Linked DNA regions of Homo sapiens. The protein of the gene in region 2 interacts with the protein of the main gene of each other region in a pairwise test. Each region holds a gene or a part of one and is shown on either strand. Other genes may lie near its edges. The genes, in order: TRIM63, NRAP, KLHL41 and PRKAA2.

Evidence for each region.
Region 1: the proteins of NRAP (region 2) and TRIM63 interact in a two-hybrid assay, tested with the Homo sapiens proteins (one study listed by BioGRID).
Region 3: the proteins of NRAP (region 2) and KLHL41 interact in binary tests that used the Homo sapiens proteins (3 or more experiments, as listed by UniProt).
Region 4: the proteins of NRAP (region 2) and PRKAA2 interact in a two-hybrid assay, tested with the Homo sapiens proteins (one study listed by BioGRID).

The regions. Positions count from the first base shown.
Region 1 is NC_000001.11:26,064,559-26,071,641, forward strand, and holds the start of TRIM63 (E3 ubiquitin-protein ligase TRIM63), read right to left. Parts: upstream 3,073-7,083; 5' UTR 2,937-3,072; coding exon 2,778-2,936; intron 1,883-2,777; coding exon 1,710-1,882; intron 1-1,709. UniProt on the Homo sapiens protein: E3 ubiquitin ligase. Mediates the ubiquitination and subsequent proteasomal degradation of CKM, GMEB1 and HIBADH.
Region 2 is NC_000010.11:113,653,894-113,661,094, reverse strand, and holds part of NRAP (nebulin-related-anchoring protein), read left to right. Parts: intron 1-3,520; coding exon 3,521-3,625; intron 3,626-6,969; coding exon 6,970-7,074; intron 7,075-7,201. UniProt on the Homo sapiens protein: May be involved in anchoring the terminal actin filaments in the myofibril to the membrane and in transmitting tension from the myofibrils to the extracellular matrix.
Region 3 is NC_000002.12:169,504,720-169,512,837, reverse strand, and holds the start of KLHL41 (kelch-like protein 41), read right to left. Parts: upstream 3,137-8,118; 5' UTR 3,060-3,136; coding exon 1,950-3,059; intron 1-1,949. UniProt on the Homo sapiens protein: Involved in skeletal muscle development and differentiation. Regulates proliferation and differentiation of myoblasts and plays a role in myofibril assembly by promoting lateral fusion of adjacent thin fibrils into mature, wide myofibrils.
Region 4 is NC_000001.11:56,704,136-56,711,336, forward strand, and holds part of PRKAA2 (5'-AMP-activated protein kinase catalytic subunit alpha-2), read left to right. Parts: coding exon 1-340; intron 341-1,956; coding exon 1,957-2,083; intron 2,084-3,339; coding exon 3,340-3,578; 3' UTR 3,579-7,201. UniProt on the Homo sapiens protein: Catalytic subunit of AMP-activated protein kinase (AMPK), an energy sensor protein kinase that plays a key role in regulating cellular energy metabolism.

The DNA.
Region 1 (7,083 bases), on a different chromosome or scaffold from region 2:
GGAGACAGGAATGCCTTCCCGGGTTACTATGAGAAGCAGATAGGAAAAATGCCTGAAAGTACTTAGAACAGCGCCTGCACACAATAGGTACCCAATAAATGGTTGATACATTAACCATTTTCCATTAATATCTTATTTGACAGCCACAATAACAGATCTTACTGTTTCTGTTTGCAGACAGAGGAAATGAAGCTCTAAAGGCTTACCCAGCATGGTACAGTACATTAGTCACAGAGGCTGACTAGCAAGCACAGTTCCCCGGGTCAGGGTTTTTTCACCTGAGATCTGGTCTGTCACCTTCCCCTGGGCTGGGCACTGCCTGCAGGCAGATGCCTTGGTGAAGGCTTTGGACCTTAAAGGCTGTGAGGTCAGCACTCCTGGAGTCTTACCAGGATGTCCTGATTTGTAAAGATCTTTCCTGGAGCTGTGTCTCTCCCAAATTTTTGTGTTGTGTTGTGTTGTGTGTGTGTGTGTGTGTGTGTTTAGATGGAGTCTCACTCTGTCACCCAGGCTGGAGTGCAGTGGCACGATCTCTGCTCACTACAACCTCCGCCTCCCTTGTTCAAGCAATTCTCCTGCCTCAGCCTCCTAAGTAGCTGGGATGACAGGCACGCGCCACCACGCCTGGCTAATTTTTGTATTTTTAGTAGAGACGGGGTTTCACCATGTTGGCCAGTCTGGTCTCCAACTCCTGACCTCGAATGATCCACACACCTTGGCCTCCCAAAGTGCTGGGATTACAGGTGTGGGCCACCGCACCCGGCCTCTCAGTGTTTTTGTCTGTTTGAGGCATGGTCTCACTGTCACCCAGGCTGGAGTGCAGTAGCACAATCATGGCTCTGCAGCCTTGACCTCCCTGGCTCAACAATTCTCCTGAAGAGCTGGGACTACAGGCATGCCCCACCACGCCCAGCTAGTTTTTAAACTTTGTAGAAACAGGGTCTCACTATGTTGCCCTGACTTGTCTTGAACTCCTGGCCTCAAACAATCATCCCACCTTGGCCTCCCAGAGTGTTGGGATTATGGGCATGAGCCACCATGCCTGGCCCTCTCTCCCCAGTTTGAGGCCAACCCTTCACAACCTCCACCACTCACACATTCTGCCTATGAATGAGCTGCTATTTTATTAGCAGGAAGACTCAGAGCTAGATTGACTGGGTCAACTCCCAGCTCTTTCACTTCCCAGCTGGGAAACCTTAGCTAATTGATTTCACTTCTTGAGCCTCAGTTTCCTCATCTGTGAAATGAGGATAATAAAGTCATGCCTGATTCACAGAGTTATTGGGAGGTACTTAGATGAAGCATTCCCAGTGCCTGACGCTGTTCCTCATGGCACACGGGAGAGTAGCTGTTGCTATCCTTATAGACAACCTGGCTGTTTCTCACCGGGCATTTTCTCTGCTGACCAGAGCCACTTAGCTGGCCCCAGGGCCTTTCTCTCCCTCTCACATCTCATCTTTCCCCCAGTCTCTGTCTTGGTATTGCCTGGAAGGGCAGCCTAATGTCTGGGCCCCTTCCCATCCGCTGAGCAATCCTGAGAGCTGGGTTGGGGTGTATGGGTCTCCAGTCCTGTCTCTGAATGGCTTGTGTAGCTAGTCCAGCTAGAGGCCTGGATCCTGAGCAGATGAAGGAGGGGGAAGGAGCGTGGGGGATCTAGGCACAGCATGGCTGGGAAGGAGGGCGGGCCCCCAGCAGGCACGAGAACCGACCTGGAGCACTCCTGTTTGTAGATGTCGATGATGTTCTCCACCAGCAGGTTCCTCTGCAGGCCGTACACTCCGTGACGATCCATGATCACCTCGTGGCGGCAGGTGGGGCAGCGGAAACGGCCTCCAGACATGGACACTGAGCTGCCCCGGCTGGTCCAGTAGGGATTTGCAGCCTGCAGGTGGCAAAGGTCAAGGTGAGGCCTGGGCTCCCTACTTAGCCCTTCTCTTTTCTAATCTCCTCTTATCCTTTCCTCTGCCTATCCGAACCACCCCCGTCAAACCTAACAACCTGGAGCTCTGCAGACTGTGATGAGAACCAGTCCTCACACACAGAGCACCTGAGAAGCAGCTAAGCAATCGTCAGGATGGGGAGGCAGGAGACCTGGGTTCAAGTCATGTTTATTCTCTGAGTGATTTTGGGCAAGCAACCTTATCTGTGTAGGCCTCAGTTTGCCCACTTATGAAATAGGTATTACAATGAGAGCAAGCTCCTAAGGCTGCTACTTTAAAGATAATATCGTGAAAGAACATTTTGTAAAGTGTCCATGGGGAACCTCGCATCCTGCCTCCCAGCCAGGACATCTACCCCCTTCCTTTCTCGGGGAGTTGGAGCCCCTTCTGCCCCCATATCATAGGGAACAGCCTCAAAAGGGAAGATGCCTCTACTGCCCACTGCCTCCCTGACACCCTCCTCCCAAAGCTCTGGGCCTCTTGCCACCAGGACCTGGCTCCAGCCCCAGGGGTCTGGTTTCTCTCTCCTGTCCCTGCCTACCCCGCTTATCACTTGAGGCATTTGACTCTTGATTGGAGAGTCAACAGCAGTGCTCAGGGCAGGGGTGGGGGAGCTGTGGGCAGGGCAGGGAGGGGAAACTTGTGTTATGGAGAAGAACCGCAGCAGCCAGAGCCGCCTCCCAGCCCCCTCTCAGCCCTGTCCAGAGGCCTCTGCAGGGGTTCACTTCCAAGGGGAAAGAGGCTGTCCAGGTTGGAAGTCTAAGGGAGAAGGGTTTCATCACAGGGAAGCCAAGTAGCCACCTGGGGACCCCAAATGAAGCTGCACCCGGCACTTACCTGGAAGATGTCATTGGCACACTTCCGGCACAGGTTGTGCTGGCACGGCAAGATGACCACTGGCTTGGTAAACATCTCCAGGCAGATAGGGCAGATCAGCTGCTTCTCCAAGTTCTCCATGGGATTCCCATCCTGGATCAGGCTCGACTTATAATCCATTCTGTGGGAAGGAATGAGAGCCACGCCTAGCTGCCTCCTCTACTAACTTTGCTCTAAGTAGACCTGGGGGTCTTGCCTTTGTCACAAAACACCGGGTCGGATCCTGTTGGCTTCCTTCTCCTGGTGCCCGAATTCTGTCTTGGTCTGAGGCCCCTCTGATATTTATAGCTAGATCTTGGTCACATGAGCCCCAGGAGGGGACCAGCTGAGCATTCCGATGCCAAGCGGCTGGTGGGGCTTGAGTTTCCTCCAGGCCTGAAAGACTGGCCCTCTCAAATCACATGCAGGGATGAGCAATCACTATTCTGCTGGGACGGGGGTCATAAACAAGAACAGCCTGTTCAGAGGCAGGCTTAGGGCAAGACTGGGTACCCAGAGCTTCCTCCAGAAATTGGTCTCCCCCCGGCACCAGGCTAGTGGGTCAGGGATGGGACCCAGCAAGTGAGCCACGGGGATTCAAGGGGTTAATAGCCAATGCTATGATGAAAATGTTCGATGAATGAATTTTATTCATTCATCAGACATTTTTCTGAGTACTAGTATATACATCAGGCAACTAGTATACATCACAACGTGACAGATGGATGAGTGATCTGTTTCCCTGCCCCGAGAAACTCACAGCCCAGGAAGGGAGATAGAAAGGATTGTGCAGTGGCACGATCTCTGCTCACTGCAACCTCCACCTCCCAGGTTGAAGGGAGTCTCCTCCTTCAGCCTCCCAACCTCAACCCCCTCCCAGCCCCACGCAACCCCTCACTGACCTAAATCAATTCCATCCCCTCCTCTGGAGTCCTGGGCAGCTCCTAGATGGAAGGGTCGGGCAGCCCCTCTCTCTGAGCCCATCCCTCTGCCTCAGACTTCAGCACAGCATTTTGCTGGAGATGATGGAGACCCCCACTCCAACCAGCCCATCCTCCATCCCTCGGCCACTTATTTCACTTAGTGCTGAAAAGCCTCCTTTGAAACACAGTCCAGTCCCCTCATCTTACAGATTTTGAAATGGGACTAGAGAAGAAAAGGATTATATTCAAAGTCAGTTGGAAAGTAAGTGGCAGCCGGGCGTGGTGTCTCACACCTGTAATCCCAGCACTTTGGAAGGCTGAGGCAGGTGGATCACTTGAGGTCAGGAGTTCGAGACTAGCCTGGCCAACATGGTAAAACCCTGTCTCTACTAAAAACACAAAACTTAGCTGGGTGTGGTGGTACGCGCCTGTAATCCCAGCTACTCAGGAGGCTGAAGCAGGAGAATCACTTGAACCCAGGAGGTGGAGGTTGCAGTGAGCTGAGATCGCGCCACTGCACTCCAGCCTGGGTGACAAGAGTGAAACGCCATCTCCAAACAAAACAAAACAAAACAAAAAAGAAAGAAAATAAGTGGCAAAGACAGAAATTTTATTCATTCATCAGACATTTTTCTGAGTACTAGTATACATCAGGTAACTAGTATACATCACAACGTGACAGATGGATGAGTGATCTGTTTCCCTGCCCCAAGAAACTCACAGCCCAGGAAGGGAGATAGAAAGGAAAAACCCAGAGGGCACAGTGACTCACGCCTGTAAACCCAGCACTTTAGGAGGTCGAGGTGGGCAGACCACGAGGTCAGGAGATGGAGACCATCCTGGCCAACATGGTGAAACCCTGTCTCTACTAAAAATACAAAAATTAGCTGGGTATGATGGCAGGTGCCTATAATCCCAGCTACTCAGTAGGCTGAGGCAGGAGAATCGTTTGAACCCAGGAAGAGGAGGTTGCGGTGAGTCGAGATTGCACCACCGCACTCCAGCCCGGTGATAGAGTGAGACTCTGTCTCCAAAAAAAAAAAAAAAAGAAAAAGAAAAAAGAAAGAAAGAAAGGGAAACCCCTCATGCGGTGCCACAAAGCCCTGCCTGGACACTTAGAAGGCGTCCCTCAGCTCGCTGCACACATTTTAACTTTTCTCCATGTATTTTAGGACATCTTCCACGTTGGCAAGTAGAAGTCATTAGAGCAGTTCCAGTGGCTGGTTTTTTTTTTTTTTTTTCCCGAGATGTAGTTTCACTGTGTTGCCCAGAGGCTGGAGTGCAGTGGCGCCATCTCAGCTCACTGCAACCTCCGCCTCCCAGGTTGAAGTGAATCTCCTGCCTCAGCCTCCTGAGTAGCTGGGACTACAGGCATGTGTCATGACACCCGACTAATTTTTGTATTTTTAATAGAGACAGGTTTTCACCATGTTAGCCAGGCTGGTCTCGAACTCCTGACCTCAGGCAATCCACCTGCCTCGACCTCCCAAAGTGCTGGGATTACAGGCGTGAGCCACTGTACCTGGCCTCCAGTAGCTGTTTTTAAGGTAGCATCTAATGAAAGGACTGTGGGGTCATCTGGTCCAAGGCGATGGGGCAGAGATATGGAGCAGTGGTATCAGGGCCCAAGATGAGCCTAAGAGGCTGTGGAATACTCAGGAGGAGTATGAAGGATTTCAGGAAAGAGGAATGATGGGAGCAATGAGACAAGACATAGAGCAGAGAAGCAAACCTTGGAAGAGAGGAAATGGGAGAAGAAGAGGGACAAGTTACAGAAAAAAGAAGAGGCCTTAAAAACAAAGGGCTGGAGGATTTCGAGGAGAGAGTTGTCCCCCCAAAATTTTGCTGAGCACTTAGGTTTTGCTGAGCACTTACTATGTGCTATGCATTGTGCTAAATGCTTTGTATGCATTATTTCATTTTACCATCTCAATAGCCAATAACAAAAGACCCATAATATCCCCATTCCACAAGTGAGGAAACTCAGGCACACAGGTAAAATAACTTGTATGAGGTCCCACCGATAGCACGAGGTGGCTCTAGGACATGAACCCAAATATGCTTGACTTAGGAACCCAAGCTCCTCATGTAGACTCTATTGAACTGTGTTTAGGTCAAGTCAACACTGACTGAAAAAAGGCCACTTCTTCTTCCTTGCTCATGGGACCTCAGTTTAGTTCAGGCATTGGCAGCATTGTGCTCCAGGAAGATGGCCCTCTCCACTGCCTCAGGAGATGAGTCACACACAGTTTAAGCCTATCATACAACCCCATTCTCTTTTGCCTAATGATGCAGTTATGGTCAATGAGACCCAAGGATATGTCTGTTGGCTAAAGATAAAGGATTTCCTCCACAATAAAAATGAATGTGCAAGAAGAAAGCTTTGTCCATACCTTTGAATGGGGCTGTGAGAGGGTAGAGCAGCTATCTTGCAACCACAAGGGGACAAGGCTGAGGATGATGTCAACACCCTGAGGATAGCATAGAGGAACCATAGGAGGCACCTGGGTTAGAGATGCCATCATTTTGTTGCCAATTTATCCAACCCTAGAGCTGCCTGTCTCTTGACTACTTAAGACGTGAGATTACAAATGCCATTATAGTGTAATTACTCTGTTACTTGAAGCAGTAAGCACCTCATAAACCTGCATGATTCCGACTCCCATATGCTGATGATTCTCAACTCTCTAATTCCAGTTCCGACTTCTCCTCTCTCCCCTAAGCTAAAGATTTGTTGGAGATTTCTACTGGGATGTTCTAATAGTATCTCAAATTCATCATACTCCAGCCAGAATACACCATCTTCCCCGATACCTAGCTCCTCCCTCCATTTTTCTTGTCTCGCATCTTAGTGAACAGCACTACTGTCCACCCATTTGCACCAACCAGGAAGCTGAGAGTCATCTTAGGGCTCCCTCTTCTTCTCATCACATGCCTACTTAATCTCTGTGTCAGGCATGGCCCATCTTTGCATCTCACTTGCCGTATTACCATCGTCTGCTTGTGAGTCCGACTCTCTCTCTGGACTTTGAAGACATTGAGGGCAAAGATGGTCTCTATTCATCTCTGTACCCCCAATGCCTGGTACCTAGTAGGCACTCAACAAATGTTTCTTGGCTGGGCGCGGTAGCTCACACCTATAATCCCAGCACTTTGGGAGGTCAAGGTGGAAGGATCACTTGAGCCCAGGAGTTAGTGTGAGACCAGCCTGGGCAACATAGTGAGATACTATCTCTACAAAAAATTAAAAATTAGCTGGTCGTAGTGTTGCCCATCTGTAGTCCCAACTACTCAGTAGACTGAGGTGGGAGGATTGCTTGAGCCTGGGAGGTTGAGGCTGCAGCATGCTGTGATCACACCACTGC
Region 2 (7,201 bases):
TTTTCATCTCTTGGTGTCTGAGAGCAGCTACATGAAATTACAATAAATATTGAATCTAGCTCTTACTTAAACAGAGTACTGAACACTCTGCTAAGTTCTTTATATTATCTCATGTGTTCTTGACAAGAACCTTCTGTAATATTATTGTGTTATAGTTGAGGAAACTGAAGCTCAGAGAGGTTAAGTAACCTGCCTAGTTTACCCAGCTGGTTGGGCACAAATCCAGATCTGTTTAACTTTAGGATATTTATTAGTGGCTCTCTTTCATATATATCCAGAGGGTGGCAAACTCTCCAGAAGACAAAAAGCACTTGTTCATGTTTTCAAATATCCATATGTTTCTGCAGTTGTGTAGCGAGGATTTGACACATAAAACATGAGGAGATGTACTTTACCTCAGAATGCTGTTTGCATTTATTACAGTGTCTACAGAAAGATCCATAATGTCTGTATTTTTCCTCTAACTGAGCCACAGCAGGCATGTCTCCACCTTATAATCACACAACAGGTCACACACTATTTTCCTCTTTTTGAGGTGGGAGTGGACTCACTTTATTTTAACTGTGTATGACAGGCCCAACCTGGAGCAAGGCTAGGATTGTTGCTGGTTCTATTTCCAGCCACAGACAGTGATGTGAGCTTCCCAGGAAGCCTGCGTGTGTGTATTTGTTTGCGTCTATGTGACAGCGTATATGTGTGTATATATATGTGTATATATATGTGTGTGTGCATCCGGAGAGTGTGTATATGTGTGTATGTAGGTGTGAATGTGTGTGCACACACATCTATATGTGTGTATGTGATGTGTGTGCATGAGTATGTGTGTGCACATGTTCATGTGTATTGTGTGCATGTATTTGGTGTGTATGTGTTTATGCATATGTATGTATATGTACATGCATGTGGGATATGTATATGCATATGTGGTATGTATATATGTGTATATAGTGAGTGTATATATGTATGTATGGTGTTTATGTATGTATGTATGTATATATGTGTATATGGTGTGTGTGTGTGTGTGTGTGTGTGTGTGTGTGTGTTGTCTACTGAGATCACTTTCTCCTTTTTGCCCACCAGGGACAAAGTAAAACGGACAACCATATCCCTTACAGGGCCCAGCTCTTACAACTGCCCTAGGGTGTGTTATGAATTACCTTTTCACCTCCCTGTGATCTCTGGGAGACTTTGACAATTGAATAAAAAACAAATTCATTGTGAAAGTGCTAAAATCAAAAAAGGAAAGAGATTTTTCAGTGATGGTGATGAAGGAGAAAAGTAGAGATTTTAAGCTGGCATTCAAAGCAGATTTGCAGGTTTTTTGTCTCCTAAATGTCACCCTTTGAAAAATAAATAAATACTTGCAAAGACAGAATTTCCTGTTTGGTAGGTGTGAATGGAATTTTTAGAAAAATAAAACATCTAGGGTTTTCTTCTATTCAGAGAACGAAATTTAGCCCTTCATGCTTCCTTACCCCACTGGTAAGATTTATGGCATTTTTTCCTCTTTCTGTTTCCTTGGTGTAATCCTGAATCTCACGAAAGGTCCCTAGGGGAGGCAAACCCTCCCCAGTGGTAGATTTGCACTGGGGAAGGAGGACAGCAAATATAACTTTCTAGAAGTGGACAGAATATCTATTTTGGTCTTTTGGTCCTGTGTTTCTGATTCCTAAAGTACATTGTTCTCAAGGAGGGCAGTTCCCCCCAACCCCTACCTGGGGGACATTTGTTAATGTCTGGGACATATTGATTGTCGTGACTGGTGTTGATGGGGTATTATTGCATCTGGTGGGTGGAGACCTGGGATGCTCTTAAACATCTTGCTATGCCCGAGCCAGTACTCCACAACAAATAATTAACTGGCCCAAAATATTGGTAGTATTATTTGTAGGTAAAAACAAAAAACGAACAAACAAACAAAGCCCACTTTAAGTTTACGTAATGTTCATTTAATTGTTTCCTAAAAATACAAGGAAAAAGCATGTAAAGATCTCTCAGTGTATATATTTAAAAATATATGCATCAAGTAGCATTAAGCAGTAGCAACCCTGGAAAGTCAATATCAGAATGTGCCCTTGATAGGGAACAAGAATCCTTTGGGTTTAAACTTTTCTCTGAGCTTGTTTTCTTATTATGTTTAAAATTAAGAATTTAAACTTCAGCTTGTAAAAATTTCAGATTTCTTTCTTTCTTTCTTTTTTTTTTTTTTTTTTGAGACAGGGTCTCACTCTGTTGCCCAGGCTGGAGTGCAGTGGTGTGATGTCGGCTCACTGCAACCTCCGCCTCCTGGGTTCAAGTGATTCTCATATCTCAGCCTCCTGAGTAGTTGGGACTACAGGCGTGCACCACCATGCTCAGCTAATTTTTTCTATTTTTAGTAGAGATGGGATTTCACTGTGTTGGCCAGGCTGGTCTCAAACTCCTGACCTCAAGTGATCCACCTGCCTTGGCCTCCCAAATTGCTGGGAGTGCAGGCGTGAGGTACTGCGCCCGGCCAAAATTGCCGATTTCTGGGCCTCACTTCCTACCTAATAAATTTTGATATCTTAGTTTGGACCTAAGACCTTCTGATGTTTTTTCTTTTATAATTAGTCCTTTTTACATTTAAGAAATCTTTGTCTATCTCAAGGTTATGAAGATGTTACTGAGAGGTCAGTTTTCCCCCAATTAATCTATACATTCAAGGCAGTGCCATTCAAAATCCTGGTGTTTTTTTGTGGAAATGGACAGACTGATTCTGAACGAATATAAAAACACAAAGCTTCTAAAATAGCCAAGAAATCTTGAAGAACAAATTTGAAGGACTCACCAGATTTCAAGACTTACTCTATAAAAGCAGACTTACTCTATTAACTCAGCATAGAATTGGCACAAGAAGAGAGAAATAGACCAGTGGACTCCAACACAAGGTCCAGAAATAGGGCTGCACGTATATGGTCACTTGACTTACAAGAAAGGCATCACTGCAATTTAACATAGCAAGAATGATCTTTTCATAAACAGTACTGTAGTAATTAGGTATTTATATAGAAAAAAATGAACCTTGACCCTTATCTATATGTAAAAATTAACTCAAGGTGTATTATAAATCAGGATGTTAAAGGTAAAATTGTGAGGCATAAGAAGAATATCTTCATAAAATTGAGGAGCCAGCATTTTAATAAGCTCCCTGGGTGATGGTTACATGACTAAAATTAAGAACCAGTACTCTAATGCCCAATGTTTTCTGAGGTTACTCTAATTTGTATTGTGTGGTAGGTTTATAAAGACTTTATCTCAGTCACTTTAATTGCACTGCTTCAAAGAGCTTCACACACAGCAGGTGCTCTATATGTGCCACCTGGTTGGAGGTGCAGATTAAACCACAGGGAGACTGACAGCACAGTGTGCCTTGCAGCACAGTGAAGATGCTTTGCAGTTGAGACTTAGCAAAATCCCCCAATTTTAGCTAGGAATTGTTTGTCTATGTTTTTTTCTCTTTTCTGATGGAAACATTACTGACAACATCTTCCTTGAGCAGATCCATGACCAAGAAGATGGTGAACAGTGTAAATCAGTTTTTCACTGGGACATGAAATCCAAGGATAAGGAAGGTGCACCTAACAGGCAGCCACTGGCAAATGAGGTGAGAGAAAAGTGACAAGTGGGTTTGGAAAAAGAAAGAATGACATACTATGTCAATTGAGTGTATTATTATTATTACTTCTAGAGAAAACCAAGTAGGTTTCCTTTCACCCAGTTTGTAATTCCAGCTGTCTATGGAAGACCTCAATCAGCGTGTCCTAATATCACCTGAACTCTATCTTCCCCAGACCAGGTTCATTGTCTTCCCCTTCCAACCACTGTATTTCTATCACCCAGGTTTGAAACCAAGGCTACCCTGTCTTTCTCTGACACTTCACTCAGCTCCACCCTTTTCTCTCCACTCTCCCCGTTCTGATCTACATCATTTTCTGCCTGGACCTTTACGAGGCCTCCCAAGGTGGCTGCTTTCCCTCCTCTAGGCTGGCCTCTCTCCAGCCTGTTGTACTCACATGGGTCAGGAGGCTCCCAGCTTCCTAGGTGTCCCTGACTTACTCTTCCCACCTCCCCTGTCTGTTGACAGACTCATCATTTCAGAATTCCTTAGCCATTTATTTTATTTACACACATAATATACACATAAGAATTTGCATTATTCTTATTATAAAAAAAAATCCAAACAGTACAAAGCTAACCCTTTATCCACCACCTCCAATTCCAGTTTTCTTTGTACAAGTACCCACTCTCGTCAATCTTGTGGATAGCATCCTTCCAGACTTTTCTCTATTGATTTGCAAATAAAACCATATCTTTCTAGAATTTACATTTGGACATGCTACCATTTATTGAAGGATCTTAAATGAGTTATTTAACCATTCTTTACTTCAACTTTCTCATCTGTAAGGTGAACTTCAAAAACACTTCCTAACATAATGATATTGCGATGAACAAAAGATCTTAGAACAGTGGTAGGCACAATAAATATCAGCTAGTATTACTTGTTATTGAAAATTATATATGTATATATGTTATATAAACCCAAAAGTATCTGAGACAGGTCTCAATCCATTTAGAAAGTTTATTTTGCCAAGGTTAAGGACACACCCACGACAGCCTCAGGAGGTCCTGACAACCTGTGCCAGAGGTGGTCAGAGTACAGCTTGCTTTTATACATTTTAGGGAGACATGAGACATCAATCAGTACATGTGAGGTGTACATTGGTTCCATCTGGAAAGGCAGGACACCTCGAAGTGGGGGCTTTCAGGTTATAGGTAGATTTAAAGTTTTCTGATTGGCAATTGATTTAAAGAGTTATTAACTAAAGACCTGAAATCAATAGAAGAAATGTCTGGATTACAATAAGGGGTTGTGGAGACCAAAGTTTTATCATGCAGATGAAGCCTCCAAGCAGCAGGTTTCAGAGAGAATAGATTGTAAATATTTCTTATCAGACTTAGAGTATGTGTTGGTGTTAATGCTGGTCGGTAGGCTTTTCTTGAATTCCGAAAGGGAGGCGGGTATAATGAGACATGTTCGACCTCCCCCTTTCCATCATGGCCTGAACCAGTTTTGCAGGTTAACTTTCGAATGTCCTTGGCTGAGAGGAGGGATCTGTTCAGATAGTTAGGGGGCTTAGAATTTTATTTTTGGTTTACAGTATATTTCTATTAAAATGTATACTTTTTTCATGAAACAATATGCATTGTTGTGAAGTGTGTATTTTTCACTCAACAAATATCTTGGAAATATTTCTACATCAGCATCCTTTTAAGCTATCGTGAATGGGTGTATCATAGGTGCACCATTAAGTATGGATATACAAGGCCAGGTGCCATGGCTCACACCTGTAATCCTAGCACTTTGGGAGGCCAAGGTGGGTGGATCACCTGAGGTCAGGAGTTCGAGACTAGCCTGGCCAACATGGCCCATCTCTACTAAAAATATAAAAATTAGCCAGGCATGGTGGTACATGCCTGTAATCCCAGCTTCTCGGGAGGCTGAGGCAGGAGAATTGCTTGAACCCAGGAGGCGGAGGTTGCAGTGAGCTGAGATAGTGCCACTGCACTCCATCCTAGGTGACAGAGCAAGACTCTGTCTCAAGGGAAAAAAAAAAAAAAAATGGATGTACAATACCATACTATCCTATTGATAGACAGGATTATTCCAAAATTTTTTTTCTATTGCAAATTTGCAAGGAACATTCTTGTTCAAGACCTCTTTTGTATACAAGTGAGTGTTTTTCTAGACTAGATAATGAAAAAACAAAGTTGCTAGATCAAAGGGTATGTCCCTTTTAAATTTTAATGGAGGCTCAAATTGAATTCTAAAATAGCTGTACATTTTATACTCCCAAAGGCAGTGTGTGAGAATGCCTGTTTCCCAACATTCTAACCATCACTTGGTATTGTCAGATAAGTGTTTGGACAATCTGCATCTTGTTTCAATTTAGATGTCCCTGATTGCTAGTCAGGTTGAGTATAATTTCACATATGAATAATCTGTCTTTCTGGATCTCCAAAGGCTGGCTCTATCCAACCTGTCCAACTTGCCCCCCTCCAGCCCACCTGGCTCCCCATCTCTTTCCCTTGTGTCCAATCAAACCCAGCTCCTCATGGTCCTAATTACTGAGCCCATCACTGCCTTCATGCTTTTATTCATGGCAGCCTACATTCCTGGAATTTATTCAACAAATAATTATTGAGTCTATGAGTTGCTACACACTGTTCCAAGCTTTTGGGATGCGTTAGTAAACCAGACATGAAAATCCCTGCCTTCATGGAACGGACCTTCTAAAGTGGATGCCATTCGTTCTCCCTTGGCCTCTACTAATTGCCCTCAGCCCTGGAGGTACAGCTCAAATTCTATCTTCCTGCCCCATATGGGACCCATCTCTTACAGACTGCTTTTTAAAGATTCTTATTGTACTTATCACTCAGACAATACACTTAAACACATAACTGTTTTCTAATTGCTATTTATTTCATGTTAGTTTTATCTCCCAAGGTGGTAGGTCATGAGTATCTTAAAAGAGAAACTTTGCCTTTCCTTTTTTTTTTTTTTTTTTGCTTTTATTGCCATTGTCAGTTGTCAAGCACATAACAGGTAGTAGGTTTTTGACATTTGTCTGAATAATGTTGATTAATCTCAGATTACCTGTCCACAGTGATTTCCCCTCCTCCTCGCCCAATCTTGATGCAATGGTGTGCAAGAAAATGTTGTTACATTCAAAATTTTCCTGTAACATAAGTGGTTCTCAGAAAGTTCAATTATTTAGAATCTTAGGTCATTTTCTAGCCTGAAATAAATGAACATTTCAGTTAGCTGAGACCCAGGATTTACCAATAGGAGTTTATAATGTTTAAGAATATCTTCTTTTGACAATGTATGTAAGTGTTGCTGGGAGTCTGGGGCATGTGTTTGTATCCCTTCATGTGCTTCCTTTGTAGAGAGCCTATTGGACTGGATATGGGGAAGGGAATGCTTGGTGCCCAGGAGCTCTGCCAGACCCCGAAATTGTAAGGATGGTTGAGGCTCGAAAGTCTCTTGGTGAGGTAAGCACCCTAGAAATTGCTTTAGGAATTGGTTTAGCAATTACTTAGCAATTAGTTTGACTGTTCCTTGACTTTTACAATTTCGGTAGACAGAATGATGCTATCATCCCCAAAGATACCCATGTCC
Region 3 (8,118 bases), on a different chromosome or scaffold from region 2:
TTACTCCTAAATTAATGCATTTTAAATAGATGTGACCAAGCAGAAAAATATAAAACCTGAAATTCTCATGTAAATATTGTCTGATGAGTCACAACCCTCTTTTATGGTGAAGTGTTTTTATCCTGGCATACCGTTCTATTAGTGCCTTTTAAAAGCAGCAAGGCATTTGCTTTGCTGACCTTCCAACTTTGTATAACTGTTATTGTTAATGTTCTGTTATACAGAACATTAAGTAGGTTTCTTGAACCAAAAATGAGAAGCTGCGTCAGTAAAAGTAAGGGTTTTATTAGGCTGGAAGAGGACAAAGATTAAACTGAACACTTGAAAGTAAAAAGGACCGTGTTATAGATATATTCAATAAATTAAATATGAAATGAAATTTAAAACTCCAGTAATTTTGGAGAATCATTCCATGGCAACAACTATTCCGTGGATCTGTCATTTGTAGGTATCTACCTATATGTCTGTCATCTGTCTATCTGTGTTTTTATAACATTCTTACTTCCTGGATGTATTTATAGCCTTTTTCATTGACTTTGCCACTTTTGACGTTTATTTGACTTTAAAATTAGGGCTTGGGAAATTTTCTGACCCACATTCAAATACTTATAACATTCTTCACTGGAACTTTGAAAATTAAGAAACATGATTAATATGTATTATCACAACTACATTTTTCAAGATTAGAAAAAGTTGATTAAAGGTATAATAGTATTTTGTGAATGCAAAGTATATCACACACTTTGAGAGCATACTGTGACTGTGGTATGACATTGTATACTTGCTTATCTTTGGCCTTTCCAACTAAAGTGCCCATAAGCCCCAGCCATGATTAGCTATGACCTAAACAAACTCTTTTGAGCCAGTTGTAAGCTATAAAGTTTCGGTATTGGCATTATGGAAGACAAAGGTTAAGCCAACTCCTTCATAAACTGATAAAGTATAACACATTGATAATATAAGACAAATTCCTTTCAAACAACTAAGGGTATATTGGTTTAGGAGAATTAATTTTCTTGGAAAATTCTGTGGTTTCACAAAACAGATTGTTAAGTTCTAATAATGTCTAAATGTATCTCTGATCCAAATAAATGTGATATAATAAAAATTTCTAACTATAATTAATTCAAATTAGCGACTTTTGTGTAGACAGTTTTTCCTAGAAGATAATCCAAAGTGTGTGGAATATATATACAAGTTTTTTTCATTTTCAACAAAATTATATTTTAGGCAGTAACCATAAATAAGAGATGAAGTGCTACCTCCAAGAACTTCAAATGAAGTTCAGGGAAACTTGGAAGAAGGTAGAAAATCTGACCAATTTAGAGCTGCCAGCAGATGAAGAAGAAAAAGAAATTAAAAAAGAAAATCTGACCAATTATTACTTCTTTATAATGGATAAGAACTTTGATTTAGGGAAACTATTTGGGGAAAGACATTAACTATTTTTAATAGGTAAGAGTATACAAGATTAAATTTAGTTTTTACAGCAGGGGGTGGTGGCTCACACCGGTAATCCCAGCACTTTGGGAAGCCAAACTGGGAGTATTGCTTGAGCCCAGGAGTTCGAGACCAGCCGGGGCAACATAGTGAGAGCCCATCTCTGCTAAGAAAAAATAAATTTAGTTTTTACTAAAATACTGGGCTTTGAGGGATTACAGTCACGATCATCTATAAACAAGGCATTTTTGGTAAAATAGTATAAAGAACATCTTAAGTCATTAAACATGAATTAGAACCTCATTATTCACCAAACTTTTTATTACACATTAACAAAGCAGTCAAATATTTTTCTGTCAACGCTCTATACAGCAAAAGTGCAAGGGACTGGAATAGGACATCAATTAGAGTAAAATGCAAGCAGCTTGAATAATTCACAAATTGGCTAACTGGATGGTGAGTAACAGCCTTCCCTTTAAGCAACTACATATACAAAAAGTCCTTCTTACCTGGAAGAAGTATGACTGTAGAGGTTGATCCTTATTTTCTTCATCCACATATAGTCCTCCTACCACATATATCTGATTTTGCTGGGTAACAATGCTGGAATGATTTCTGGGAATCTGCTCAGCCAGTGCAGTAAGGTAGCATTCATTTTCCGTGGGGTCATAAGCCACTGCTGCTGTGTCATTAACCAAGAGGATGAGGTCTTTTACAAACATTCCATGCCTGGGAATGTCATTCAGGTAACCAGGAAGTAAATCTTCATCACCAACATCACCATTCACCTCACCAGCCCCAGTCTTCGCGGCATTTTTGCTAGGTTCTGGGAGTTTGCCTGCGAAAGCATCTTTTAGAACTTTGATTTTTTTCTGGAGGTCTGGGTTGCTTTTAATTATATCATCTTTCTCAACATGATCCTTAAAATATTTTTCTGTCATAAGGCGAAAACGGATACAATCAAACACTTCACTAAGGTTTTTAACCCTGTTTTCCTTGTCTGTTCGCACCCATTTCATCACTGCCTCAAATACTGCTTCTTCTTTTTCTACATTTAGGCTGTCATTTGAAATGACTGAGATCAGTTCCTGTGGAGACAGTTGCATAAAGTCCTCTTCCTTACAAATCTGTACAAAGCGATCAGACACAAATTCACGGGCAGAAATGGCGAGTCTCGGGCAGTCAAGAAGAAGTCCTAATCTTAGGATGGCTAGACAGTTACCAGGAGCAAGTCTTTTCTGAAGATAAGAAACGCAGACAGTAAACACTGAGGGGATCTGAAAGCGGCTGGCCAATGCAAAAATATCTTGCACATTTCCGTCATTGAGATCAATACTGGCAGAGTACAGGTATTTGATGATTAAATCAAGTATAGCAGGATCCACATTGTCTAGCACTACCTCCTTTTTTTTCGCCTCATCAATTTCAGATAAAAAGTACTCACGGAAGTAAGGACTACAAGCTGACAAAATCAATCTGTGGCAAGGAAGACTTTTGTCACCTGCTTTTAGGGTGCAATCGATGAATTTTTTCTCATCCAGGAGATCTTTTAGACCATCCTGAAGAAGGGTGGATTGGTAAAGCCGCAGTTCCTCTGCAAGTTCCCGCTGGGAATCCATTCTGTGAGAAACCTGGGTAAGGAAGGGGACACTGAAGGCCTTAGCTCCTTGCAGCACACAGGTCTAGCTGTAAAAAGGCAGATCAGTGTGCTTTGCCCAGCTTGAAGCCTTTGCAATTTAATCCCACTAGCTAAATATAGATACCAACTCTAACAACGGGAATTTAGGAGAGCTGGCTTGGAAAGAAGAGTTGTTCTTGCAGCTGTTATAGATTGAAAGTAACAACTGGAACTTTTAATCACTAGGGAAACAGCTAAGAAACAAGACATTTAAGTGAAGTTGAAAGCTTAAAAATACATAACACATTAGAAGATATACTAATAAAGGCTACTACAAGAAAATGTTTATTGAATTAACAGAAAAATGAATCATAAAAATGAGTCACTCCTCTAAATATGTTCTAGTGTCAAGCTACTTGGCTCTCTGAATTAATGATGCAAAGGTCAAGAATATGAGATGTGTTCATTTGAATACTCATAAGCAAGATCTCATTTCCAATAATTGTTAACATACAAATTTTTACTTTCTACTCAGAACAGTGGGATATAGATATTTCTTTTAGAAGTAGTAAACTTAAAGATGTTTACTTCTGTACTAGTTTTACAAAACCTTTAATGTTGCCATGATAATTGAAAAAAGAAATGCAGAGGAATTGCTAATTTTCTAAAACATTCCAAATTATTCTTACATGGAAAAACTGTAATTAATATTGAATTAAATTATAAAATTATTTATTCATATCCTGCCTTGTCATACAAATGATCTAATGTGGCAAACGATAATAAGGTAAAATAAAAGCAAAAGGTTAAAAGGAATCACAGAGCCAGAAAAAATAATTAAAAGTCAATCTAGGGAACGAAAAAGTCCACACACATTCAAATAAGATCACAAAAGATAATCTGTAATTTTAAATATCAAAAATTATCATTCATTAAATAAAACGTGAAAAATAGAACAGATATAACCCCATGAGAACAATGTTATCACTAAACACAGCAAAATCAAGATGAACTCCTACAATGGTCATAGAGAACAGCCCCCCCTTTTTTTAAAGAGTATATAACTGGGGACATAACGTAGGCTGTTGATTATAATAGAATACCATATTAATTATGGAGGTAGAAGTAATGATTTGAAAGAAAATCGGTCCTTTGTTTATATATAGATGGTATAATATACTTCATTAAATACTTTCATTTATTTATTTATTTTTGAGACAGAGTCTCGCTCTGTCACCCAGGCTGGAGTACAATGGCGCAGTCTCGGCTCACTGCAACTTCTGCCTCCCGGGTTCAAGCAATTCTCTTGCCTCAGCCTCCCGAGTAGCTGGGATTACAGGCACCCGCCACCATGCCTGGCTAATTTTTGTATTTTTAGTAGAGACAGGGTTTCATCATGTTGGCCAGGCTGGTCTCGAACTGCTGACCTCGCGATCCGCCTGCCTCGGCCTCCCAAATTGCTGGGATTACACGTGTGAGCCACCGCACTGGGCCCATTAAATACTTTATTACACAGTCATATTGTCACATTATCTGAACTCAAGTAGGGCTGTAGAAATACTGTAATTTCAAAAGTTGGTATTTTTACACATACCCCCAAAAACAAATTCCATGAAGACAGGGATTGTGGGAGTGTCTGTTCTTTTCAAATGCTATAGCGTAGGGGTTTCGTGAGTGCTTTATAAGTATTTGTTGAATGAATGAATGCCCCAGATCAAGGAATTATGTATTTTTAAACTTCAAGGTCTCTATCCATGAGTAAAGGCCTTTTCTTTTATTTTACATCACAGTGAAGTCAATGGTACTGTCAGCTGCTAAAACAACAGCTGAAAGAAGAGCTCATTGACTCTTTTTCCATTTATAGATGCCACTAAAGGTTTTAACACACCAGAAAAAACTAACAGCTGCTTCCTTGTTTAAACAATAAATGACTCATTTCTCTCTACATGTAACATCTAACATTTGAAAAGATTAATGAGTCAGATGCAAACATCATATGACATTTGAGATTATTCCTTACTAGTCAGCAATTTTATAGTCTCTTTTGCTTGAAAAAAACAATATTTAAACAATAGTTATGGCAGCATTTTATCTGTGACCAGTACAAATTTTTCATACATTCTTTCCCCTCGTCTTAAAGGTGGTTTATTATAATTCCAACCCTTAAAATGTAGAAATCCTTTTCCATTTAAATGAAGAAGCCAATTTGTAGCTTTTGTTGATTTTTAATAAACTTAGGTTAGCACTTGGTTGTACTGTATGTCTATGGTTGTACACAGACTTGCATCTTATTTTAAATGTTTTTACATACTTTTCCCTCTGGAAGAAGAGGGCTCCTTTGGCTAATTTCAATTATTTGAAAAAGATTCCTTACAATGTGTTTTACACGGAAACAGTGGTCAAAAACACCGAATGATCCTAGAGAGGTCAACAAGTCTTACCTAACCAAGAAATGAGAAAAATAATATCCTATTTTTGAAAATTCAAAGAAGTTTCAATAAATACAAAGAGAAAGTTAATAAACAAAGCTATTTTCTTACAAAGTAAATGTATTCTTGCCAAAACTACATTGAAATTCTTACAAAATAGCATCCAAAGCACTTTAAAGGGGGGGGTTGATGTATTCCAGAGTTAGTTGTAATTTTTAGTTTTTACAAAAATGACAGGTTTAAGGATTACAATTTGTATTAGAGTTGGTTTACATTTGGAGCTATGTGATTATTTATTTATTTATTTATTGAGATGGAGTCTTGCTCTGTTGCCCAAGCTGGAGTGCAGTGGTGCGATCCTTGGCTCACTGCAGCCTCCACCTCCCAGGTCCAAGTGATTCTCGTGCCCCTCCCAGGTAGCTGGGACTACAGGTGCCCACCACACGCCCAGCTAATTTTTATATTTTTAGTAGAGACGGGTCTCACCATGTTGGCCAGGCTAGTCTCAAACTTCTGACCTCAAGTGATCTGCCTGCCTCGGCCTCCCAAAGTGTTGAGATTATAGGCACGAGCCACCATGCCTGGCCAGGAGCCATGGGATATTTAAACCAGATTTTTACAATTAAGAAAGCAGAATTTTGATTATTCCGTAAGAATAGTCTTTTTCTTTTAAATAATACTTTCAAAACGTTAAATGGTGCTGCATAAATTCTTTATTAAACCGAACATGATACAGTCACTTAATGTCTGAAAACTAAGACTTTACAGGTATTAAGTACAAAATAAACATTTATAAACTAGGTACATTTTGATTACAATTTTAAATATAATTTTTAGAAAACTGAAGTTTTTTTTTTTTTATTATACTTTAAGTTTTAGGGTAAGAATTTTTCTTAGTACAGAACAAAATGAAAAGTCTCCCATGTCTACTTCTTTCTACACAGACACGGCAACCATCCGATTTCTCAATCTTTTCCCCACCTTCCCCCCACCTCCACTCCACAAAGCCGCCACTGTCATCATCGCCCGCTCTCAATGAGCTGTTGGGTACACCTCCCAGACGGGGTGGTGGCCGGGCAGAGGGGCTCCTCACTTCCCAGTAGGGGCGGCCGGGCAGAGGCGCCCCTAACCTCCCGGACGGGGCGGCTGGCCGGGCGGGGGGCTGACCCCCCCACCTCCCTCCCGGACCGGGCGGCTGGCCGGGCGGGGGGCTGACCCCCCCACCTCCCTCCTGGACGGGGCGGCTGGCCGGGCAGAGGGGCTCCTCACTTCCCAGTAGGGGCAGCCGGGCAGAGGCGCCCCTCGCCTCCCGGACGGGGCGGCTAGCCGGGCGGGGGGCTGATCCCCCACCTCCCTCCCGGACGGGGCGGCTGGCCGGGCGGGGGGCTGACCCCCCCACCTCCCTCCCGGACGGGGTGGCTGGCGGGGCAGAGGGGCTCCTCACTTCCCAGTAGGGGCAGCTGGGCAGAGGCGCCCCTCACCTCCCGGACGGGGCGGCTGGCCGGACGGGGGACTGACCCCCCCACCTCCCTCCCGGACTGGGTGGCTGCCGGGCGGAGACGCTCCTCACTTCCCAGACAGGGTGGCTGCTGGGCAGAGGGGCTCCTCACTTCTCAGACGGGGCGGCTGCTGGGCAGAGGGGCTCCTTACTTATCAGACGGGGCGGTTGCCAGGCGGAGGGTCTCCTCACTTCTCAGACGGGGCGGCTGGGCAGAGTTGCTCCTCACCTCCCAAATGGGGTCGCGGCCGGGCAGAGGTGCTCCCCACATCTCAGACGATGGGCGGCCAGGCAGAGAAGCTCCTCACTTCCTAGATGGGATGGCGGGTGGGAAGAGGCGCTCCTCACTTCCTAGATGGGATGGCGGCCGGGCAGAGACGCTCCTCACTTTCCAGACTGGGCAGCCAGGCAGAGGGGCTGCTCACGTCCCAGACAATGGGCAGCCAGGCAGAGACGCTCCTCACTTCCCAGACGGGGTGGCGGCCGGGCAGAGGCTGCACTCTTGGCACTTCGGGAGGCCAAGGCAGGCAGCTGGGAGGTGGAGGTTGTAGCGAGCGGAGATCACGCCACTGCACTCCAGCCTGGGCACCATTGAGCACTAAGTGAACCAGACTCCGTCTGCAATCCCGGCACCTCGGGAGGCCGAGGCTGGCGGATCACTCGCGGTTAGGAGCTGGAGACCAGCCCGGCCAACACAGCGAAACCCCGTCTCCACCAAAAAAATACGAAAACCAGTCAGGTGTGGCGGCGCGCGCCTGTAATCGCAGGCACTCGGCAGGCTGAGGCAGGAGAATCAGGCAGGGAGGTTGCAGTGAGCCAGAGATGGCAGCAGTACAGTCCAGCTTCGGCCATTTTGGGAAGAAGTTCTTTATCAGCTCCCTTGAAAAAGCACACGTAGATCACCAGTCCTCTTTGGACCTCCACCCACTGGGCCGCAACGTCCCCATTGGCTGGGCGAATTTGCAGCCGGGCGTGCAGGCACTGCTGTAGGAGCGCCCGGGCCTGAGGAATCCAGCTACCCTCAGCCATGGCTTAAGCCAGCGCCGCGGCCGGACGGTTACTAGGCCATGTGTCGCTGGCCCCTCCCTCGACGCGCTGGCCGAAAACTGAAGTTTTCTAAATGACTTTTTCCT
Region 4 (7,201 bases), on a different chromosome or scaffold from region 2:
CCAGCTTGCAGTGGCTTATCATCTTATCATTGACAATCGGAGAATAATGAACCAAGCCAGTGAGTTCTACCTCGCCTCTAGTCCTCCATCTGGTTCTTTTATGGATGATAGTGCCATGCATATTCCCCCAGGCCTGAAACCTCATCCAGAAAGGATGCCACCTCTTATAGCAGACAGCCCCAAAGCAAGATGTCCATTGGATGCACTGAATACGACTAAGCCCAAATCTTTAGCTGTGAAAAAAGCCAAGTGGCATCTTGGAATCCGAAGTCAGAGCAAACCGTATGACATTATGGCTGAAGTTTACCGAGCTATGAAGCAGCTGGATTTTGAATGGAAGGTAGGAAATTATAATGTAATAAGATCATTTGTAGAAGCCATTTTTCTATATTATAAGCTGCTCTGAGCTCCTGAGTTGAGTATTAAGCCCAACTTTTTCTAGTAATATGCTATGCACATTAAAAACAAAACAAATAACCTCTATAAGGATGAAAAGTGGTTGATACTGGGAACCAACATATTTTGAATTATAGAAGTGTTCTTGGTCAAGAAAAAAGTAATCAACTAGAAATCATCTGAGAAAATAGCTTACCAGTTTCAGCATGCATCATAGCAATGAAAAATCATGAGTGTCTTCAAAGATAGTATGTTTTTACTTTCTCTTTTTTTTTTTAGGGAGGTTATTTTTCTTTTCTCTTTTTTTTAGGTGACAGAGGCAGGTGGCTGTAATAGCTAGTGGTTGATACAAATTATATCATCAGGACATATTTATTCAGTCAATAAACACTTTTCTCCAAGTTGTGATATTCTCTTTTATTTGGCTAGTGCTTTTAATACTTAGAGTACATTTTCCTTACTCTCAGCCCACAGTTTGCTTTTCTTAAAAATTAGTGCTCAATTTCATTTGAGTTCTATTTGAATATATGTGTGGGGAGGGGCATTTTTTCTTTTCAGATATGCCTTTCACTCTTGTTCTTTTCTTGAGGATTGTGAACTTTTAAAGGAAGAAGAAAAATGTGCAAACTTACCACATAAATATGCATTTGACGTGTTCAAATAAATCAGTCATTTTCATTTTATTATTTGTACATGAAATGAATATTTTCTTAAAATCATTTAAAAAACAGATCTCTCTGTTTTGGAGCAGTCTTATTTAGTTAAAAAAGAGACGTTAACATTTTTAAAATTCTGTACTGAAACATTTTGAAATTAGTACCACAGATGTTTTGAAAACCCAAAGCAGTGTTGTTTTTTTGTTTATTTTTTGTTGTTGTTGTTTGTTTTTTTGAGACAGGGTCTCACTCTGTTGCCCAGGCTGGAGTGCAGTGGCGCGATCTTGGCTCACTGCAACCCAGGGTCAGGCTATCCTCTCACCTCAGCCTCCCTAGTAGCTGGGACTACAGGCGCCTGCCACCACACTCGGCTGATTTTTTTTGTATGTTTTTGTAGAGATGGGGTTTCACCATGTTGCCCAGGCTGGTCTCAAGCTCCAGGGCTCAGGCGGTCCACCCACCTTGGCCTCCCAAAGTGTTGGAATTACAGGCGTGAGCCACTGTGCCTGGTCCTCTTTGTTCCTTCTACTCCATAATCATCCATGAACATGTTCAGGCAGAGACTGGACAACCAAATTAGAATTGATGTTTTAGAGTTGATGCTTATCTAGAGTGAAAGCTGGACCCTATGTAATCTCTGGGTTCTCTTTAAGTTTTTCCTTTATCTTTCACTTTTTTCTTCAGTACCCCAAATTTATTCAAGTAGCTTTTCCTTTAAATCTTAATTGCCATACAGTACTGCTTAGTGGGGATTAAATAAATACTAAAGTGAACTACCAGTAATATAAAAAAATTATTCGTATTCCTTTCCTACCTCACCCCTATTAATTATTTGTTTTGACTTTTTTTGCATAAAAAGGTAGATATTTTGTAGTTTATTATTTTTATTGATTTTTCACTTTAGGTAGTGAATGCATACCATCTTCGTGTAAGAAGAAAAAATCCAGTGACTGGCAATTACGTGAAAATGAGCTTACAACTTTACCTGGTTGATAACAGGAGCTATCTTTTGGACTTTAAAAGCATTGATGGTAAGGAAGCTATGCATGCATGAGCTCTGAGAAGATAAAACTTGGCACTAGTTGACCAGATGTTAAAATCATCTCGAAGACATCCGGTGGGTAGGTCCTGCACTGGTTTTTAAGCAATCTAGACTTAACCAAAATGTAAGTGAAGTGAAAAGGATGAAAGACATGTTGAATACCTCTTACCTGGCATCTTTCCACAAGAAGTATCTCCGTGGCGTAAAAGAATCATTTGAAGTGTTGGCCGTGGAGCACAAGTAAGGAACAACAGGGAAGCAGGTTTTACTTTTCAAAATTAACTGACTTGTCAGATTCTTTGTCATATTTCTCCATTCATATTTTATTAGTTAGTATTATAGTGTCTAAACTTTCTCCTTCATCACCTTTCCTCATCCTGGGTGGCCAGGGCGACCAAATAGGTCTCCATTGGGATTTGGGTTGGATTTAGGTACCCATGGCAATCAAGGAGCCAAAGGCGTCAGGGAAAATTGTCATGTCCAAGAACTTAGTGTGTGCCAAGAATTAAACTTGGGTAAACCAAATCTGATTATTCATTTCAGAGGCCCAAGTGGGATAAAACCAGAATAAACTAAGGGTCAGGTGCTGGATGGAACAAGAATGGAACGGAGTTTAGAGTTAGGGAAGTTGTTTTAAACGAAGCATTTAAATTTTACTCTTGAACTACCATCAACTATGTATGGTAGTGTTTATATGGATCCCAGACCTGTTTCATCGAAATTACATGTTGTTGTTATTAAAACGCAGATCCCTGGGAACCACTCCAGACCTATTAAATCAGAATTTCTGGAGATTGGTCCTGGGAATCGTAGAAAATGCAGTTTTAACAAGATTTCTCTCACTTTGCCCTCCACCTCCCCAAGGCAATATATGATGGTGACTTTTGTTTTTACCTTAGTGATTTTTTTTGTTGATATGCTAGAAGAAAATAAGTTGTCAAGGATATGCTTTCTTCACATGCAGAGATATCAGTTTGATTCCAATATCAATGCCGATTACTCCAATTTGAGCAGGACTTAGGGGCCACATTTTGACTGTGTGCAAGTCTTGTGATTGGTAGCGATGTTTGTTATGATTGTTGGAAGGAAGAAGACTGTGTTTCTACAACACAGAAACATGACATTCATTATTAAGTTGCCCTTGCTCAGATGTGTTTACTTAATATTCTGAATATCATAAATTCATAGGAAGGGCTTGGGCATATATACTTTCCATATAAATTGCTCTTCTTTGGTCCATTTCAGATGAAGTAGTGGAGCAGAGATCTGGTTCCTCAACACCTCAGCGTTCCTGTTCTGCTGCTGGCTTACACAGACCAAGATCAAGTTTTGATTCCACAACTGCAGAGAGCCATTCACTTTCTGGCTCTCTCACTGGCTCTTTGACCGGAAGCACATTGTCTTCAGTTTCACCTCGCCTGGGCAGTCACACCATGGATTTTTTTGAAATGTGTGCCAGTCTGATTACTACTTTAGCCCGTTGATCTGTCTCTAGTTTCTTTCTGTTATTGCACTATGAAAATCAGTTATATTCTTTAAATTTTTATCTTACTTTTGGATAATATCCACTGCAATACTAATTGAGAAACATGAATTATTTCCAGGGGCACACAATGCTATTGAAATTACTGAAAACAAAATATCTGACATCTTATTTACTTGTAGAAATCTGTAATTCTATTGTGCCTATGATAAATTCACATAGGCAATATCTTTAATAGGTTAATATCAATGAAGATTTTTAATTACAATAATGAGTTCACTACAGACGATTAACACACCACACTGGCGAACCATCTCAATGTAAGGGTGGTTTGGCAACACCTCCTTGCTTTGCTGTTTGGTGTAGGTAAATCTAGTTTACTTCCTAAATTTCAGTAGGCTTTATGCTGTGTTTATGCCCCCAATTTATTTTAACAAAAGAAGATTAAAAAGTAAAAGAACCACGAGTAAGATATTATTTAAATGTTGAAATCTTAAAAACCTGCCTCCAAGATTTCAGAAGCCAAGTTTTTCTAACAGTATTTGTACAAATACTGCCTAGTGTATTCAACAGAAGGACTGTGGTCATGTAACAGGTAACCACAATTTTCAGGTTTCTTAAAAACAGCTGTAACTAACTCAGGATTTTTATCTTGAGATTTCCCTGAATAATATATTTATCTTAAGAGCCTTCAAGTTTCAAATTAATATTGGAACATCTGGAATTGCAACAACTTTTGTCTTTTACATAAACTTACGTCATTTAAAAAATGTCTTCAAAATCTACCTTTCTCAAATTCTTTTTGCCTCTATTTATTTTTGCATTTCACCAACAGTGATAAAATAGTTAAATGAAACAAAGCAAAGTATCAACAGTCCCTTAAATGAGAATCCTTATCTTTGATCTTTATTTTCTGTGTTAGGTGTTAGGGTCCTGGTGCAGCTCATAATGCTAATTCTTCATTGGAAGCCACTCCCTTCACCTCACCTCACCTAGTCACTATTGTCTTTGTTCATTGTTTGATCCTGAGTGGTTGATTGATATAGCTTTGAATCTTTTCTAGTCCAAGTTTGAAAACACTGTTCTGGCCCTAAGGGCTGGCTATGACCTTTACTGTTGAACCTGATAGGGCAGGGAAGCTTTGAACATCAAGAAAAAATTTTTATCTTAAATAAATAAATATATATATTCACACACCAGTGCTTTTAAGCAAAAACCAGTTTTTTTGTTTGTTTGTTTTGCTTTGTGCAGGTTTTCTTTAAGATTAAAAAAACACAAACTATAGCAGGGTAGATAATAGTTTATTGATTATATTTTGTTTTAGTAAAAGTATTTAATTTTAAATTCTGTGTAATTTATCTAATTTGTATTTATTCATTTGTTATTTTTATGTTGTAATTAACACTTATTTACCTGGATTACCCTAAAAAAATTAAGCTCTTGAAAACAAAAAAATGACATTACCTTGACAGGCTTCTCTTTGCCAAAAGTAATGTATGTTCTGCCAAGAAGCAAATGAGAATGTTAGACTAAGTTTCTCCTGTGTTAGTGGAAAACAAGTGTGTCTATCTTTAAATATTCTTTGAATCAGGAGTTTGCGTTGTGTCACATCATATGGCTTTGCAGATCTTTTAAAAACTGATGTTAAATAACTTATAAGTCCAACTTCTTAATATCAAGATAAATGAATAGTTCACCAATTTGGGAAGGAGGGCGGGTTGCAATTTGAGATAGTTTAAGGTTTAATTATTGAAAGACTGCCATCTTGTGGCACCAAAAGGTAATTTTTACATGATTATTTGTATAGTGATAAGCAGTCCTGCTGTGTTAGCCTGGTCCATTATAGATATGGCATAGTTTTGGGTTCTCTAAATGGGTCCATACCTCTTTTGGGAAAAAACAGGGCCACCTCATAATATTTGCCTGATTATGAATGGAATTACCTTAGAAATAAGGAACTAATCAGATTACTTAACCCCAATGACAAAATCCACAAAAATTTTGAAGGCAGAGAAACAGAAGGAATCCAGTGATGTTTTAGCTCCATTAGTCTAATAGGTCAGATATTAAAAAATTGTTCATATCAAAATTACCTTATATGGATTATTGCCATGTTTTTTGAGAGTTAATTATTTACTGTTTTCTAATTCTTGCCAGTATTTATGAACAGCTGTAGCTTGATATTTACCTACTGAATTTTAGGAGAACTAATGGTCACAGTTTGGGTTCTTTTATGTGTATGTTTTTAAAACAGCTATTTTGTGAATCTAGGTGGTTGGTTTTTAGAAGATTTCAGGAGATGCAGTCCAGCACAATTAGAGCTGGAACATTGTTACAGCAGGCTTTTTGTTGCTCATGGGCAGATAGAGGGAAAGAATCAGTTGTTAGCCCCAAATTTCCACATTTCAGTGTTGTAAACTCTGAATGTGATAGGTAGATGTGGGCTAAGAATAATTTCCTCCAGTGAAGACACGGGAGAAGAGCTTCTATTATGAGGTTATAGATAAGGCCTTAGTTATATCATGGAAATGGACTCCATGTAGTTCTAGAACTGCATTTCCCAAAGTATATCCTGTGAGATGCTCCACAGAAAAAATGATTGCATGGACTAAGTTTGAAAAATGTTGCATGCTACTCTTCCCCTCGAAGATGACAGTGGATGTCAGCATTAAAGACTTTGACAGGTCTTTCTGTGAAAAAAAGAAAGCCACATAACTTTGTTGAACTTTGCCCAAATTAATTTTTCATTTTAAAAAACTTAATAGCCCATGAAAAGCAAATTTGGGAAATACATTTTTTAGGAAAATACTGTCCCAGAATGCCATAATTAGGGTAGTTAATAATTAACACTTCCATTTCTCTTACTGGTTGTTGGGAGAATCTGATTGAAAATTAGAATTACTTTGTTTTAACTTGCAGACATGTTCATCGTGAGTGAATGCTGGATTAAATAGAATTTTCTGTGTCTGCAACTTGTTTCATGACACCTTGGTTTTCTTAATCATCTTGTATTATTATTTGAGTGCAACATTATTCTTATGCATGGGTGACTGAAAAACCTGAAACAAGATTACTTGTTAAAAAAAAGTCTAAGAGACTAATGACTCATGCTTATGGCTCAGTGGGTAATGAATCAGTGTCACTGATTCTTACTTTTAAAATGTGTAGTCAGTGAACATTTTCTAAATACTTTTCTTTGGGATACCATATGAAGATCTAATTCCTTATGTTTCAGTGTAGGAACAGCTACCTTCTCAAATAGAATATGCAGGGAGGGAAGTAGGCAAACCATTTACAAGTTGGGTTTTTGTTTTGATTAACCTGTTAAGAGACACTTTTGTAATCTCTAGTGTTTACATTCCTTTATACTAGCTATCTATAAAGAGAATCCAGAAGGCTAAATTAATCAGAAATAATTATATTTCTATGTCAGGGTATTGGCTATATGTAGCATGAACAATTCTCCATTTTCTGCAAATGGGTTTTTCAGGACAGTTTTATAATTCTGAGTTTGCTTTTTCTTATTCCCTAGACAGTTTGTACTCAGGGAATACAAATTGATTTTTACTGTTAAATGAGACATAGTTTAGAAAAAATCATAAGCAACTATTGTAGATTTTTGAT